Regions from separate parts of the Homo sapiens genome. Here region 2 is linked to region 1. The links come from fine-mapping of genetic effects on gene expression. Tissue or cell type: esophagus muscle. Region 1 holds a variant in brackets; the other region holds the start of a gene. All regions are shown on one strand. Distances are from middle to middle.

What was found. PIP is the estimated chance that this variant, and not a neighbour inherited with it, causes the effect.
Region 2: GLI3 starts here. The variant in region 1 is fine-mapped to the expression of GLI3 in esophagus muscle (GTEx, PIP 0.99).

What each region holds. Positions count from the first base shown.
Region 1 is chr7:41,933,236-41,941,343 of GRCh38, forward strand. It overlaps LOC124901618 (a long non-coding RNA gene), which reads right to left and starts at 355. Exons shown (of 2, transcript XR_007060294.1): 1 at 141-355. The variant C/T (reference allele first, on the strand shown) is at 4,429.
Region 2 is chr7:42,232,896-42,241,003 of GRCh38, forward strand. GLI3 (GLI family zinc finger 3) reads right to left here and starts at 4,314. Exons shown (of 15, transcript NM_000168.6): 1 at 4,076-4,314. RefSeq lists an enhancer at 4,058-5,039.

The DNA of each region.
Region 1 (8,108 bases):
AGACTACTTAGCAAGATCCTTTTTTCCCCGTCTCGTCAACACTTACTTGAGTCCCCTCATAAGTCACCAACTCCAGGAAGCCTTCCATGTTTGACTCCATGAGTCCATAATGCTCTTTCATACTATTTTTTAGCACTTACCACCTACTGAGATTCTTAAAGATGGCATCCTGTCCCAAGGAGACTAGAATTATGCTGTAATAACTATTGTATCTTCACCGCTTAGCGGCGCTTCACACAAAATAGAGAGTCAATAAATATTTGATAAATAAAAGAATAGTGCAGTGATCTGATGAACCCAGCCCCAGCCAGTGTCTGACTCCTAACCGCATGAGACCCAGAACAAGGACTGCTTAGCCAAGCCCAGTCAACCCCTAGAGCTGTGGAAAGATAGTAATAATGAAAGACCATTGTTATACTCCACTGAATTTGGAATGGTTTGTTATGCAACAATAGGTGACTAGAACAACCTTAGAAGAGCTATAAGACATAATCAACCTGTACTAAGAGAGGCCAGGAGAGTATCTATGGGCCTGGATCCTGGGGGTGCTAGATCAAGGAGAATAAGGAAGAGTTAGTCTTTGTGAAAGCCCTGCCCCCTGACCCAAGATTTAACACTGTGGCAAGGTTCCTGACATGCTGCTAGGTCAGACCTTGGAAGCTTAGGCACACTAACCGGAGGAGAAATGCTGAGTCAAATGGTAGAGAAAGAATACAATGCCCAGGGAAGTGGGCATAGTATTGTAGATACACTTCATAAGGCCAAAACTCTACAAGACAATGAAGGCCTGGAGTCACTCCATTTACTAAGGTAATCAATCATTTTATTGGCAAGATGGACAGCAATACCATTAAGCTCAGGGATGACTGTCTTCTCTAGGCAAGTCCTGCAATAAGGGATGCTTACATAAAGATGCTGTCTTTGGCTCATTAATATAATTCTGTAAAGCATCATACCATTCTTCAAGTGGGGTCAAGAGCAGATCAGGACTCTATAACAGACTAGGCTGCAGTGCAAACAGACCTTCCACATAAGGTATATGACATAAAAGACCTTAGGATTTCAGTAGTACCTGTCATGGGAAAGACAATGTGCTATAGAGTTTTTGGCAAGCCCTGATAGTAAAATTCCAACCTACACCCCTAAGTTTCTGGAGCAAGGCCATACTATCTGCAGTAGAGAACTATGTGCTAGTTGAAAAATAGCTCCTGTTGCTATGATTTCTTAAAGGGCTGGGCCTTAGGGTTTCAAGTGACCATTCAGCTAGAATGGTGCCTATCCGTTCTGCTAGATCTGTGAGGCCATAAGTTCTGCTAGCTCTACAAGGCCGTAAGGTCAGGTAGGCTTACCAACAATGCATTGTAAGTTAGATGTGTTGTATTGAAGATGATCACAGAGATGGAGGACACAAGAAAAGGGCATGAACATGTGTCCCAGACCCTCATGTCATTCACCACTGTCATCCTGAATCTCTTCCTCAGCTCTTGTAACCTACTGACAGAGGAGGAATTAGGCCAATTTTGCTTCACAAATGGGCTACTGAATGTGTAGGTGCAAGCTGAAAAACTGTCCTGAAATACAGCCTTACTCAACTGGTGGTTCTGAGAGTCAGGGGTGAGGTTAAATCCTCTCAAAGGGCAAAGCTTGGATAGTGCACTTGATCACTTACGTTGTGTAGAAAGAAAAGTAATCTAACTTAAGAATATGTATGGACTTATGGTCTGTGGTGAGTGCCTCTGTTTTTTGTCATGACCCTGGAAGGAGAAAGATAGGAAGATGGGGAATAAAGCAGTCTGTAGAAGATGTATGTGCCTAAGTCTGTGGAGTGGACACAATTAATGAAGATTTTTGTATCACGTTTTAAGGTTCACCAGAAAGCAACTACCACTAGAGAGCCAGTAAGCAACTAAGCAGACAAAATTAGTTGATACCATCCAGTCTCTGTCATTGACCACCTCATATCTATCACGATGGGCTCATGAACAGTGTATGGAGAATAGCAAAGAAGGAGGCTATGTGTGGGTCCCACAGCTAGGTTCCCATTCACTAAGGCTGATTAGCTACATCTGTATCTTCAGTCTACCAGCAATAGATACCTGTGCTGAGCCATCACATATGGCACCATTTCTCAAGTTGATCAACTGGCTACTTGGTGAAAAGTTGACTACACTGCACCAATTTTACCACTCAAAAGTAGAAATTCATCTTGACTGGAAGCAACAGATATTCCGGGTACAGGTTTGCCTTTTTTGCTTGCAGGGGCTCAGCCAGCCCCACTACCAAACGCTTGCAAAGTATTTGATCCATGATGTGGAATTCCACATAATATTTCTTCAGACCAAGGAGATGTGGCAAAGGAAGTGTATCAGAGGGTCACAGAACTATATCACACCACTAGAAGCTACTAGCCTGATAGAGTACCAAATGACCACCTGAAGCCCCATTTGAAAATCATGTCCTGTGAGATGGGACGTCATCCTCCAGGTACAGTGTACATGCTCGATCATATATGATGCTCTGACCCTGATAAGTAGAATATAGAGTCCACGAACCAAGAGACTGGAGTAGGCATGATCCTGCTTATCATTATTCCCAAATGTGCACTTGAAGAAGCTGTGCTTCCCATTCCTGAAATTCTAGGTTCTACATAACTAGAAGTCTTAATTCCCAGAGGACAATCACAAGGAACATTGCATTAGACTTGAAGCCATTTCTGCAGCCTGGTAACTTTAGACTCTTTGTTTCTAGATTCCAGCAATCAAGGAAGGAATCACCATACTTGCAGATGTAATTGACGTTGGTCACTGAGGGAGGTAGAACAGGCATTACATAATGAGGGCAAAAAAGAAATTTGGTCCCCCAAGTGATCCAGTGACACATCTCTCAGTATGCTCCAGTCCAAATTTGACAAGAAATAGGTAAGTGTATCAACTGTGGCCTGAGAATGTCATGGTACTAGGGGCTCAGAGAGATGAAGGTCTCAGTCACCCACCAGAAAGCCACAATACAAGCAGAGGTACTAATCAAGAATGAGAGTCATCTAGAACAGGTGGTAGGGGAGAGAGATGGTGAGTACATATTGTAGCCTCAAGACTGCTGCATTGGCTAGGGGTGAGGGAGTAGATCCTTCTACTAGCTTTCTTCATCTTGTAGGTTTCCTCAAGAAGAGCGCCAGCCACAGTTCTGGAGTATCTGTTCCTAGACGGAGGTGAATGCACTAGATGAAGTGCATGAACCTGAACAACTTGAGGGAAGGACAGTAGTAGATGCTGGGCTGCTGTCAAGATCCCCCTTACAGTTGGGGCACCCATTCATCCAGCTGCCCGGGTTGTTGAAGGGTAGTGATGGCTCTCAGATGACTCCCTGTCCTGAAATATCCTCAGCCAAGGGAAACTGACTCATCTAAAATTTTGCCCCCTCCCTGGGCACAGGCTGCACCCATGACTAGTCTTTCTGGGGACACAAAGACTTGATTCCCTTGTCTCAATTGAGACAATTCTCACGGCTGTCTCAAGTCCAGAGCTCCCTGTCAGCCTCTGTTGAAACTGTATTGCAATTCAACTGCTCCATTTGCCAAGTTCTGCCTTTGCTTCTCCCTTTGCCCCATTCTCATCTTTCAAGATCTTTACTCGATAAATATTTTGCATAAAAAGCTCAGGGTTGTGGAGTCTGTTTTCCAGGAAACTTGCAATACAACAGATGGGTAAACGAATATTCAAATAAAGAGATGATCCAATCCACCTGGCTCAACTGTCACGTTGTCAAGGAAAGAAAAGTTCGGTTTTGAGAAGCTTAAAGATGTATGTTTGATATGGTTTGGCTGTGTCCCCATCCAAATCTCAACTTGAATCGTATCTCCCAGAATTCCCATGTGTTGTGGGAGGGACCCAGGGGGAGGTAATTGAATCATGGGGGCCTGTCTTTCCCTTGTTATTCTCATGGTAGTGAATAAGTCTCATGATATCTGACTCTGATGGGTTTATCAGGGGTTTCTGCCTTTGCTTCTCTTGTCATTCTCTCTTGCCGCTGCCATGTAAGAAGTGTCTTTAGCCCTCCATGATGATTGTGAGGCCTCTGCAGCCACGTGGAACTGTAAGTCCAATTTTACCTCTTTCTTTTGTAAATTGCCCAGTCTTGGGTATGTCTTTATCAGCAGTGTGAAAACAAACTATACAATAAATTGGTATCAGTAGAGTGGGGCACGGCTGAAAAGATACCTGAAAATGTGGAAGCGACTTTGGAACTGGGTAACAGGCAGAGGTCGAACAGTTTGGAGGGCTTAGAAGAAGACAGGAAAATGTGAGAAAGTTTGGAACCTCCTAGGGACTTGCTGAATGGCTTTGACAAAAATGCTGATAGTGATAAGAACAATAAGGTCCAGGTTGAGGTAGTCTCAGATGGAGATGAGGAACTTGCTGGGGACTGGAG[C/T]AAAGGTGACTCTTGTGTTTTAGCAAAGAGACTGGTGGCATTTTGCCCCTGCCTCAGAGATTTGTGGAACTTTGAACTTGAGAGAGATGATTTAGGGTATCTGGCAGAAGAAATTTCTTTCTTTTCTTTTTTTTTTTTTAAGACAGAGTCTTGCTCTGTCACCCGGGCTGCAGTGCAATGGTGCAATCTCAGCTCACTGCAACCTCCACCTCCCAGGTTCAAGCAATTCTCTTGCCTCAGCATCCCAAGTAGCTGGGATTACAGGAGCCTGCCACCACACTGAGCTAATTTTTGTATTTTTAGTAGAGATGGGGTTTCACCATGTTGGCCAGGCTGGCCTCGAACCCCTGACCCCAGGTGATCCTTGGCCTCCCAAAGTGCTGGGATTATAAGCGTAAGCCACTGCGTCTGGCCTGGCAGAAGAAATTGCTAAGTAGCAAAGCATTCAAAAGGTGACTTAGGTGCTATTAAAAGCATTCCATTTTAAAAGGGAAATAGCATAAAAGTTCAGAAATTTGCAGCCTGATTAAACAGTAGAAAAGAAAAACCCATTTTCTGAGGAGAAATTTAAGCCAGCTGCAGAAATTTGCATAAGTAGTAAGGAGCCTAATGTTAATCCCCAAGACCATGGGGAAAACTTCTCCAGGGCATGTCCTAGCTCTCATCCTTCTGTCTCCCCACACAGAGCTTTCACGGCAGCAGATTCTAGAAAAGGGAGAGAGAAATCAGACAGGGTGCTAGTGCCTTAGTCGGCTTCAGGCTGCTATAACAGATTGCTACAGACTGGGTAAATTATATAGAACAGAAATTTACTTCTCACAGTTCTGGAGGCTGGGAAGTCCAAGATCAAAGGGCTGGCATCTGGTGTTTGGCAAGGACTTTCTCGCTTCATCCTCTGAAGGGAGAAACACTGTGACCTCACATGGCAGAAGAGTGGAAGAATACAAGGGATAAGCTCTTTCACACAGGCCCCTTTATATATAAACAGCATTAATTCATTCCCAAAGGCAGAGCCCTTATGATGTAAACATCTCCCAAAAGCTCCACCTCCCAACACTATTGCATTGGATATTACATTTCTAACACAAGAATCCTGGGGGACATATTCAGGCCATAACAACGAGATAAGTAGAAATTTCTCCCTCTGGCTCCTCTGGGTTGGGGAGTTAGGGCAGGGTGAGGGAACATGCTGGGGAAATGAGATTGGGACATTCATGCTCATGGATGGACCACAGGCTGAGTTTTCCACTGGATGTAAGAGTCACCTTCTCAGATATTATGGAGAATTTACTTTGTGTGCCTGCACCAAATCACATAGGCCAGAGGAGAATGCTGAATGTTAGAGAAAATTATTGAACAGGGCCAGGTTTAAACTCAAGGTGAAGGGAATCTAAATAGGAAGGGTAAGACCTGGCAATGTAGTTATGACCACCTCCATAATTATTAACCCCCAATCCTTGGTTCCAGACTTTTAATCCAAAAGGAGAAGCATCTATTGGGCATGCCTTCTTGTGTGCCAAGTAATGCATTGTCTACACTTGAAAGGGGATGGGATGTTGGACTTTAAAATCAGTTAAAAAGCCTATTTCAAATGCAGATTCTGGCCTCCAGAGATTTCAGTAAGAAAGGGACAAGGAATCTGATTTTTCATTTAAGAAGCAGACCAGGGCCGGGCGGGGAAGCTCATGCCTGTAATCCCAGCACTTTGGGAGGCCAAGGCGGGTGGATAACGAGGTCAGGAGATGGAGACTATCCTGGCTAACACGGTGAAACCCCGTCTCTACTAAAAATACAAAAAATTAGCCAGGCGTGGTGGCGGGCACCTGTAGTCCCAGCTACTCTGGAGGCTGAGGCAGGAGAATGGCGTGAACCAGGGAGGTGGAGCTTGCAGTGAGCGGAGATGGCGCCACTGCACTCCAGCCTGGGCGACAGAGCAAGACTCCATGTCAAAAAAAAAAAACAAAAAAAAAAAACAAGAGGCAGCCCCGAAGATTCTGAAGCAGGTGATCTCTTAGCCACTCTTTGACAAGCACAGATTTAATGTCTCCTAGACCAAACAGGCAGACACAGCAGAATGAAGCTCTCCAGCTCAACTGCAGGGTGGATGTGCCTAGTCTGTCTTGTCCCTCTTCCTTGCCAAGGTGGCCCTTTACAGCTGCCCTGTTCAATACAGATGAGCCACAGGAACTATTGAGCATTTGAAACGTGGCTAGTCCAAAGTGAGATGTGCTGCAAATGTAGCACAGACATGGAATTGTGAAGATTTGGCAAAATCAAAAAATGTCAAAGGCGTCATTAATAATTGTTGATGTTACATACTGAGATGACAATATGTTGGATTTATAGGTTTAAATAAAGTATAAACTTGATTTCACTTTTTAAAAACTTTTTAAAGTAAGGCTACCAGAAAATTTAAAATTACATTTGTGGCTTTAATTTGTGACTTGCATTATATCTCCATTGGGCTGCCCAGGTCTAGTCAATCCCTGCCACAGAACACGGAGCAACACCTCCATCCTGTCCCCAGACCTACTGCTCTTAATCACTGAGGCCCCTTTGGAACTCTAATAACTATAATTTGTGGTTCCTTGTGTGCCAGAATTGCACTAAAAACCTTATCCATGTTCTCTCATTTAATGTTCACAATCGCCCTCATGAAACAGCCATTTCAATCTCTGGTTCTCAGATACACTGCTCCCAGTACTGACCTCTTCTGAAGCTTTTCTGGTGCTGTATTGAAAACCTCCTCCTCTCTGTAAGTCCTCCAGCCACCTCTGAGCTGCTGGAGATCAGACCCATTTGTATTTTAATTCTCACTTCCTAGCACATGGCGCTCTGGGACGCAGACAGATTAAGTGACTTATCCACCCTCTGGGTCACAGGGCACCAGGATTTGAATATGATCTGTCTGCAAAGTCCACGCTTTTTTTGTGTGTTTTTGAAAATCACTTTATTGAGGAATGACACGTAAAAAGCAGTATGCTTTTCAACCATCACATATGCCAGCTCCCAGGTGGGCTGCTGTGGGAGCAGGGAAGGGTGCAGGGAGGAGAGCCCACTTCTCTTTCCCTGTGATTATTTTTCCTGCACGGGGTTGTATGGCCAAAAAGTGCGCAAATAGATTGGTAAACACTAAAGCTGGTCCTCGTTACTGACAGGTGAAAAGAACATGTGTAAGACCCAAAACACCTAGGAAGGACATTTGTAAGGTGACTAAGCCTGAGCTCCGCCTGTCTCTTTGGAAGCAGCCAAGGTACAGTAAATGCTCTTGAACACCAGGGGGCAGTGTGTGACTGCCGTTTCTCATTCCGCTCCCTACAGAGCCTCAAAGCAGTTTTTCCCAGTAAAGCTGATCTCTGCTACATGGGTCCTAACTCTGAGCCTCTGTCACCTCTGTCAACAAGACTTTCCTTGAGTGACAAAAACTGAACTTAAGTAATGTAAGTGCCCACAACAGCTGAAGTCTGAGCAATTCTTAGCGGCAGGAAGATGTTTCTCTTGCTGCCTGAACTACTCCTAGAATGGTAGAGCATCAAAGAACCATAGCTCCTTAAGCATCTCTGGGCAAGAGGTGCCTGACCCCTATCCCTGATGGCACTGAGTCCTGTCTGGGACACTCTATTACATTTCTTTTCTGTCTTTCTCCTTCCTTTCACCTACAAGTAAATCTTTTCTGTTTT
Region 2 (8,108 bases), 300 kb after region 1:
TTTCACATTTAAAAAAACCAAAAGACACTCACAGAGGTAATGAGTAGTGAAGAAATTTGGCACTCAAATATAGCGCATTTAGAATTACAAGTGGAAAAAGTCTCTCATTTTCAGGGGCCAGGCAAAAGAAAAGTGCCATAAAACAATTGAGACACCATGTAAAGTTTGCGATCAAATGTACTTCCAAACACATTTAACATTCAATTTCTTTCAAACAGCTCTCCTCCCTCTCCCTGGAGTGACTGGCCTTTCAATTTAAAAATAATAATTATGGCAATTTTTAAAAAAGAGAATGAAATATCTAAAGTGGCTCTAAATTAACAAGTACCACTTACTCCAGACAGCATTGCCTTTAGCAGCTCCTAAAAACTTAAGAAAAGGATCTTAAAACAGGAAGCTTAGTGAGCTCATAAAACTGTTGCTGGAGCCAGGAACACATAGCATATTTAATCTGCAAACTGTGAGAGTCTACAGTGATTTCAGCAAGATCTGAGGCATGCCCTCAAGGTTTGCTGGGATCTGGGATTAGGGGGTTGATAAGAACCTCCACTGCCCATGGACATGTTTTTCTTCTGCAGTTAAACACAAATGCATAGAGACGTTTGACTGCTGCTTGGCGTTACTGCTCAAGTTATATAAAAGCTTTGCAGCTCCTTTTGCTGTCAATATATCAAAGTTTAAAAAAAATCATCAAAGTGTGAAATTTCATTTAAAGTCTTCGCCAGTCTACAGCTCTATTTCACAGGCCCATCAAATAAAAGTAAAGATGAAAAATACACTGAAAATACTTGAAAAAGTTTGCAGCAGTACCCCCTGCCCTGTTGTTGTTTATTCTGTCTCCCTTTATTTGCTTTGAAACCAGAAACAGATCAATTTTCATCTAGAAAAATGACAACGTGAAGAGAAGGGCAGTATCTTCTCCTAGGCTTTAATGAAAAGACAACCTGAAGTCATTATTAGAGTGGAACCTTTTGTTTAACAAACGTGTGTGTATGTGTGTGTGTGTCCTATAAAGTCATTTCAGCATTTTAATTGCCTCTCATGATATAAGTTGGCAGAAAATTTACTGAATCTTCCAAAACAAATCAGACCGACCTCAGAATATGAATGCCAGCAAAACTAAAACCTCCTTCAAAGAATTCTTTAGCTGGGGATTTACAACAATTGCATAAAGAAGAAAAGTCTGACTTTTAAGATAATCTACTATAGTCTAAAAGCATTAACATTCCATTGCTAAGGTTTTCTTGAGGATTTCATGACTCATTGATTCACTTTTCCTTCAAGACTGGTTTTTCTTAGTACATTACTGTCTCCATGTAAGTGAGTGCATGCAACAATGATCATTAAATTGTTTCTTTTCATAAGCTCCCAAACTCTATCCTCAAAAAATGGAGGGGGAGAAGAGGTCTCAGTAAGCAGGATACCTTACATAGGAGGAAGGACCTCTAAATGGCTAAGCACAGAGGAAGTCTGAAATGCTTACAGCATGCAGGTAATTAAGGAAACTTCACTGGCCAAGAAACAAAGGAAAGTCCAACTTTTAGGCTTGCACATCGAATTGATAAATTAACAATTCTTTCATTAAATAATTAATGAAATAACTCTACAGAGCCATTTTTCATCAGTATTGAATTTTCTCATTTCTGTCTATGGTCCTTTGCAAATTAGATATACAATAGAAATGTGTTTATATCAAGGTTCAGTCAAGGAACACAAGCATGTTAAAGGCACTGGGAATTGGTAGGCATCTGAGTTGGACCTACCAGCCTACTAACAATAATACAATCTATATCTTTAAAGTGTTTCTGCTTGTGTGAAATTTCACTAGACACCTCTCACATTGGACTCATTCATGCATCTTAAACCAAAGCTTCCCTAGGCTGACTTTAAGAATTGCATACCCTGAAAGGATCTCCCCTTAGGCGGGGAGTTTCTAATTAAATAGCTTTTAGTATAAAATAAACTCTCTACTCTGTATAAGCATGCTATTACAACTAATTTAAATGTTATTTCATGTTTGTTTTAGGTTTGAATATAGTTTAACTGGCCAAAGTGTTTGTGTACCAGGTCGTTAAGACCAATATTTCCTAACATAAACAAATTCTTCAGATACTTCACAGAGTTTACATTGTTAAAACCAGTCCCGGCAGCTTTAATATATCCCCTCAACTGAAATACTGTTCTGCTTTAGAAAAATTAAGAGATTTTGAGGCTATTTCACTATTTTAAAACATAGCATTTTCCTCCTTCAAAAGAATCTTGACACATGTAATTAAGAAACTGTCAGACTACTATTAATTTTTAATCTAAAACCTAAATGAAATAATTACAGGAATCAATCAATAAGGCACCTATTCAAAATTACCGAGCAATTACATAAATACTCAAAATTAATACTTTAGGTCAATTCTTGTAGATTTCGGTCTATAATATGCTAAGACATCAAACAACACAAAAAGTGTAGCATGGGGAGGATGAATGGTTCCTGCCTTAAATAGACTGAAAAGAGCTCATTTCAGACGGCCAGGGTGCAGGCCCCCCACCCGCCATGCCCAATGCGCTCAAGCTGAAACTCTTTTATTTTTAAAAGTTAATTTATTTCCACCAGACACATATTTCAGGGATCTAAAAAAACGGCCTCATCCAAATTCTGTACAAAAATCACATTTAAGAGGGAAAGGCCTAATTACTCGAATTTTCAGCAAAGTGTATATACTGTGCTCTGGAAAGCCTAACTGGAGAGAAGAGGGAGGAGAGGAAAAGGGGAGCAGGAGGTATTTTTTAGAACTAATAATACCAGCCCGGCTAATGGCACTGCCATGTATTTGCACAGCGGCCGGCCCTCCATACCTTTGACTAAAGGGTTCTTTGACTTGGAGACGCAGACAGTCCATCATTTCAAACTGAAGTGGCAGCTGGAAAATGTGGAACAGCTGGCAAAGAGCTGGGAGAAAATGTTTTACATAAATATATGTACATATAAACTGGCAGAGGGCCATGAGCACTGTACCCAAGGCCAGAATCTACCCGGCAGTCTGCACTGGGGAGATGAGAAGTTGGGGCAGGATGACCAGCGGCGGAGGGAGCCTCCTTAATCCTCTTTCCACGCGGGGTCAGGCAGGGAAGCCTGGGGTGCAGCGCCTCTCGGGGGACGGCATCTTACAGAAGGAGGTGCAATGGGGGACAGGAGCACAAAGTTCAGGAAAGGATAAAAGGCCGGGTGCGGGGTGGAGCGTCCGCTTCGGACAATCTGCTTAAAAGTCGCTTCACAAACTCTGCAAGTTTGGGATCAATATTTACACCCTCTCTGCCTTCTCCCGCCCGTTTTCCCGCTGCTACTCAAGAAAGTAACTGTCCCCTGCTGCTCTGTGTAAACGCGGCACCTTAAATGATTATTGCATGGACCACGGTTACTTTGTGTGTCTGTGCGCGCTGCCCCTGGAAAGGAAAAGAAATAAGAGAATCCCAAATCATATACAGATGGTACAACTTTCACTTTTCCTCTATGACGACGAAGGCGCGCCTCTCTCCATCCGCTCACACCACACCCCCGCCCTCCGAAGCATAGCCCGGGCTGGAGAAGCCCCAGCGGCGGCGGCCCCCGCGGCGGAGGTCCCCGCGCGCACCCACCATGCCTCCCGCCTCCTTCCGCCCATCCCGAGCGCCGTGCGCGCCCGAAGCCCGAGCCGTAGAGCGCCACCGCGCAAAGGAAGGAGCCAGGCGCGTGCGGGGCTCGCGGAGTTCTTCTGAACCCTTTGGATGGGGGCGGAGGCGAGGGGCGCCGCCACCACTGCGGCAAACTTCGTCCCCCCTCCGGGAGGTGAAATTCTCCAATCCGTCTCCGGCCGGTCCGCGGGTCGGACTCTTCGGAAAGGACCTTCCAGGAGGAGGGAGCGAATGCAAGCCTTGCTCGGACGCCTCACCGGCGGCTCTCTAAATCTGGGCGCCTTTTGACAGCCATTTTCACTCCATCCCGTCCCCACGCTGGGGACCACCTCTGGCCCCGGAGGCGCGGGCGCGGCCGCAGGAGCGGGCTGCGGGGTCCGCGAAACAAAGAACTTCGAGCGGGACGTACCTGCGGCGGCAGCGGCTGTCAAGTCCCCGAACTTCCCATAGACCCGCGGACGGGGCGCAGGCTGGCGGCTCCCCGCTCCGCGCGGCCGCGGGCGGCTACGGCTACCGCGAGCGGCCGGGCTGGGCGCGGGGTGCGCCCGCCGCGGGCATGGTGCGGCGCGGGCGGCCGCGGGGCGCGCGGGGAAGGCGGGAGAGCGGCGCGGGTGAGTGGGAGCGGCGGGTGTGCGCGAGTGCGAGTGTGCGAGCGCGCCGGTGGCGCTGCCCCTGCCCGCTCCCTCCCGCTCGTGCAGCTCCGGCATCAGTTTCGGGGATCGTGTAATCCGATCCCTTCTGACTCACAAGCCCTGAGTGACAGTTCTGATTTGGTTCAACCGCGGGAGGGAGGGGAAAGAGAAAGAAAGAAACCCCCAGCCGTACGCCTCTCCTGGCATCCAATCGACTTTCTGGAAAAAGGTCCCATCCCGGCCTGGTGCCCCGTGCTGGGTGGAGAAGCCCCCCGCCCCGACCTGGCACCGCCTGCACTACTCACGGGGTGGAAAAGTTGTCCCTCGGCTCCGCGCTCCCCTCCCGCGCGCTCCCTCCTTCCCTTCTCTCCTCCTCTTCCTCCTCCTCCCCGCGCTCCTCCTCCCCCAAGTTTTAACAGATGTTGCCGGACTCTCCTCGCTCCCTCGCACTCTCTCTTCCTCCGCCCCGGCCCCCGCCCAGTCCCTTTTCTTTCAGCCACTCTCGGGCTCGGAGGGGACGCGCTGAGCAGCAGGACGCCTGCCGCCGCAGGGGGCGAAGTTGGGAAAACTTGGAGTGCTGCTCGCCTTACTTTTGCTTTCTCGCTCCTTCCAGGCCGCGCCGGGAGCCCCCGCTTCTCCCGCCCGCCGGGTCCCCAAGCCCGGAGTGGGTCCCAGCTGCGAGGCGGGCGGCGGCGGCTGGGAGGCGGCGCGTCGCGGGCCGGGGTCGGGGGCTGGGGGGGAGCCCGGGCGCCGCGAGCCACGCGCGCGCTCCCTCCCCGCCCTCCGCCGCCGCCGCCGCCGCCGCCGCCGCCTCCTCCTCCTCCTCCTCCTTCTCCTCCTCCTCCTCCTCCTCCGCCCCTCCCCGGTCTTCACACAGACACATTCATGCCTGCTCCTCCTCTTCCCCCTACTTGACCCCGCGCCCTCCCGGCGCGCCGAAGCCCCACCCACCCGGCGAGGGGAAGGGGGCCCGGGCGTGATGTCACCCGCGCCCTCTCTCTTCTCTCTCCACACCGCCAGGACACCCCCCAAATGCGCGCCCTGGCACTCGTGCTGCGTCCTGTCTGCTCCCATCTTCTCCCACCCAGCCTCTCTTTCTCACTCTTGCTCAAGGGCTGGACTCCCCTTTATTCTTTTAAGGCTTCTCTGATTACCACCGCCCCCCATCCTTGGCTCCCCATCTCCTTGTTTTACATTTTCCCAAAGCCATCCCCGAAACTCCCTCTCGCGGGATGATGCCTTTGGAAGTTCAGGGTTTTTCTCTCCACCGGACTCGTCTGCCCTCGGGGCCAAATCCGCGAAGCGAGGAGGAGCTCCCACCACACAGCCTGCTGTCCCTATGGGCCACTTTATAAAAGACACAAAAACAAAGACCCCAGGCTTGGAGCCTGGTCTCTAACGTGCCGCTTTTCCTTGAGCTACAAAGTGTCTCTGTCCCTGCTTCATTTTCAGAGGCCCATGCTAGTAAAAGTTATTTGGCCTCCTTCCTCGACCATCCAGTCCTTGTTCATCTGCGTCATTTTAATATATCCAACCTGGACATGTAACTTAAAAAAGGAGTTCTCGGGGGGAAACACAGGAAGAAAAAGAAAGAAAAGAAAGCCCCTGTGACATTCCAACATCCCCTCTTTCTGGTTAAGCCGGGTCCACCCAGCCAGAAGTGCCCCGGAGCTCCGGGTTGCTTGTGTGGCGTTGCCGCCAAGTGTCTTGACTGAAGGAAGAGTGTGGGTGGATGAATGATGAGCTATTAGAATTTGAAGAGCATTTTGAGATTCAAATGCTTAACTGAAGAATCTTTTAACGAAATTGAGGGTGGTATTCATTGTTTGTTTCTTGGGACTCCTTCCTTGTCACAATGACATGACAAGTGCAGAGACAGACTTAAGGTTTTATGGTGGAAGTGGTGGAGGTAAGGTGGGGCTAAAGGCCCTAGTTAGCCATTTGTTTTAAGATTTCCCTCGACCTCACGGCTCAGGAAAAAACAAAACACCACTGACTCATCGCAGAGAGCACGAGACTCAGAAGCCCTGTGGCAGCCCCATCTCCGCGCTCACTAACTGGCCTCAGGCCTGGGAGGATTCTCTGAGCCTCCATAGGCTCTGAGCCCATCTAGGGGATAGTGTTAGGAGTGCCAGGTCGCGTACCTCCCAGGATGGCTGAGGGTTTCCAATGAGAAATACATGGAAAAGTATAGAGGGCTACAAGTGTGTAAGAATTATGCTTTTACAATTGAAGAGAATTGCAAGCCACTCTTTCCTTTATATACTCCCAGCATCAGTTACAATTGTTTTTAGTATTCATGTACTGCTTCTGCCTCAATCACATGAATACAAATAGTACATCCTGATAGCCTACTCTGTTCACCCAATGGCAAAAAATAAATACAAAGAAAGACAGCCAATAAATCATCAAATAATAGAATAAACTAGATATTTCGACTCTTACTTCAGTCTTATAGCACATTTTGAATCATGAAGATCTTGATTTTTCAGTTCTTAAAAGACAAGAACAAAGCAAAAGCAGCTAATCTTTCCCCCTATGCCCGTCACAATAGCTAAACAAAAAAGAGGAAGAATAATGCTGTGTCTCTTATGTGTCCAACTCTGCTTTAATGGTAAACCCATACATATAAGTAGGCACATTTTGCAGAAACAGTGGAGGGGTAAAAAACCCACTTTGCCTGAGTGTGGGTTAAATAATGTCATAATGCAGTGACTTTCTCTCTGTGTTAACACCAGAACGCTTTCCAAATTAAATCTTACGTAGAATCCCAAAATATAGAAGAGTTATTATGGTTGAAATTGGAGTGAGGTCTCGGAGCCCAATCCCCCTAAGCCTTTCTCTCTTTCCCTTTCCTGCAGTTGCTCCTGAGACATCTGTAAAAACCCAAAGACACCCAGAAAGACAATGCTACAACCTTTGTTTGTAGTGATACACAGCACTAAGAGACTTACAGGATTCTGTGCACTGCCCTTCCTTGATGTCTGAAATTCTATCATAGATTGACTTATTGCCATCTCTCATCAGTTCTCTTTTCAAATGCAGATATCTTAAGAAATTTTAATATAGTAAGTCCTCAGAATAGTTAAGCTTTTAAGACAGACTTTCTTTCTTGTTGTTGCAACAGTGAAGTAGGAGATACTTGAAGATACTTGCATTTGTTTTCTAGGGCCATGGTAACAAAGTACCAAAAACTGGATGGCTTAAAGGACAGACATGTATTGTCCTATAGTTTCTAGAGGCTTGAAGTCCAAAAGTAAGGTGTCTTGCAGGGCCACACTCCCTCTGAAACCTGGAAAAGAAATTTCTCCCTTGCCTCTTACTGGCTTCTGGTGGTGGCTGTCAATCTGGGTGTCCCGTGGCTTGCAGCTTCTCCCTTTCAGTCTCCACCTCTGTCCTCATATGGCATTCTCCCTTTGTCTCTGGCTTCTCTTCTTATAAAAGCACGAGTTATATTCTGTTAGAGACCCACCCTACTCCAGAATGACCTCATCTTAACTAATTACATCTGCAACAAGCCTGTTTCCAAGATCATATTCTGAGGTTCCTAGGGTTAGAACTTCAACATTTTCTTCTGGGGGACATAATTCAACTCCTAACAACACTGCAAAAGATAGTGGGAGAGGAATGAAGGATACGCAAGAGAGAGAACAAAGGATGAACCTGGAAACAAACTTCACGTGCTCCTCTGATTCCTACCATGGGCCGATGTTATACAAATACTTTTCTCCCCTCACTTACCATGGCAGTTCTTCCATCTCCCTGCACAGTAGCACCCAGTTAATTATTGGAAAATTCCAGGAGGATAGT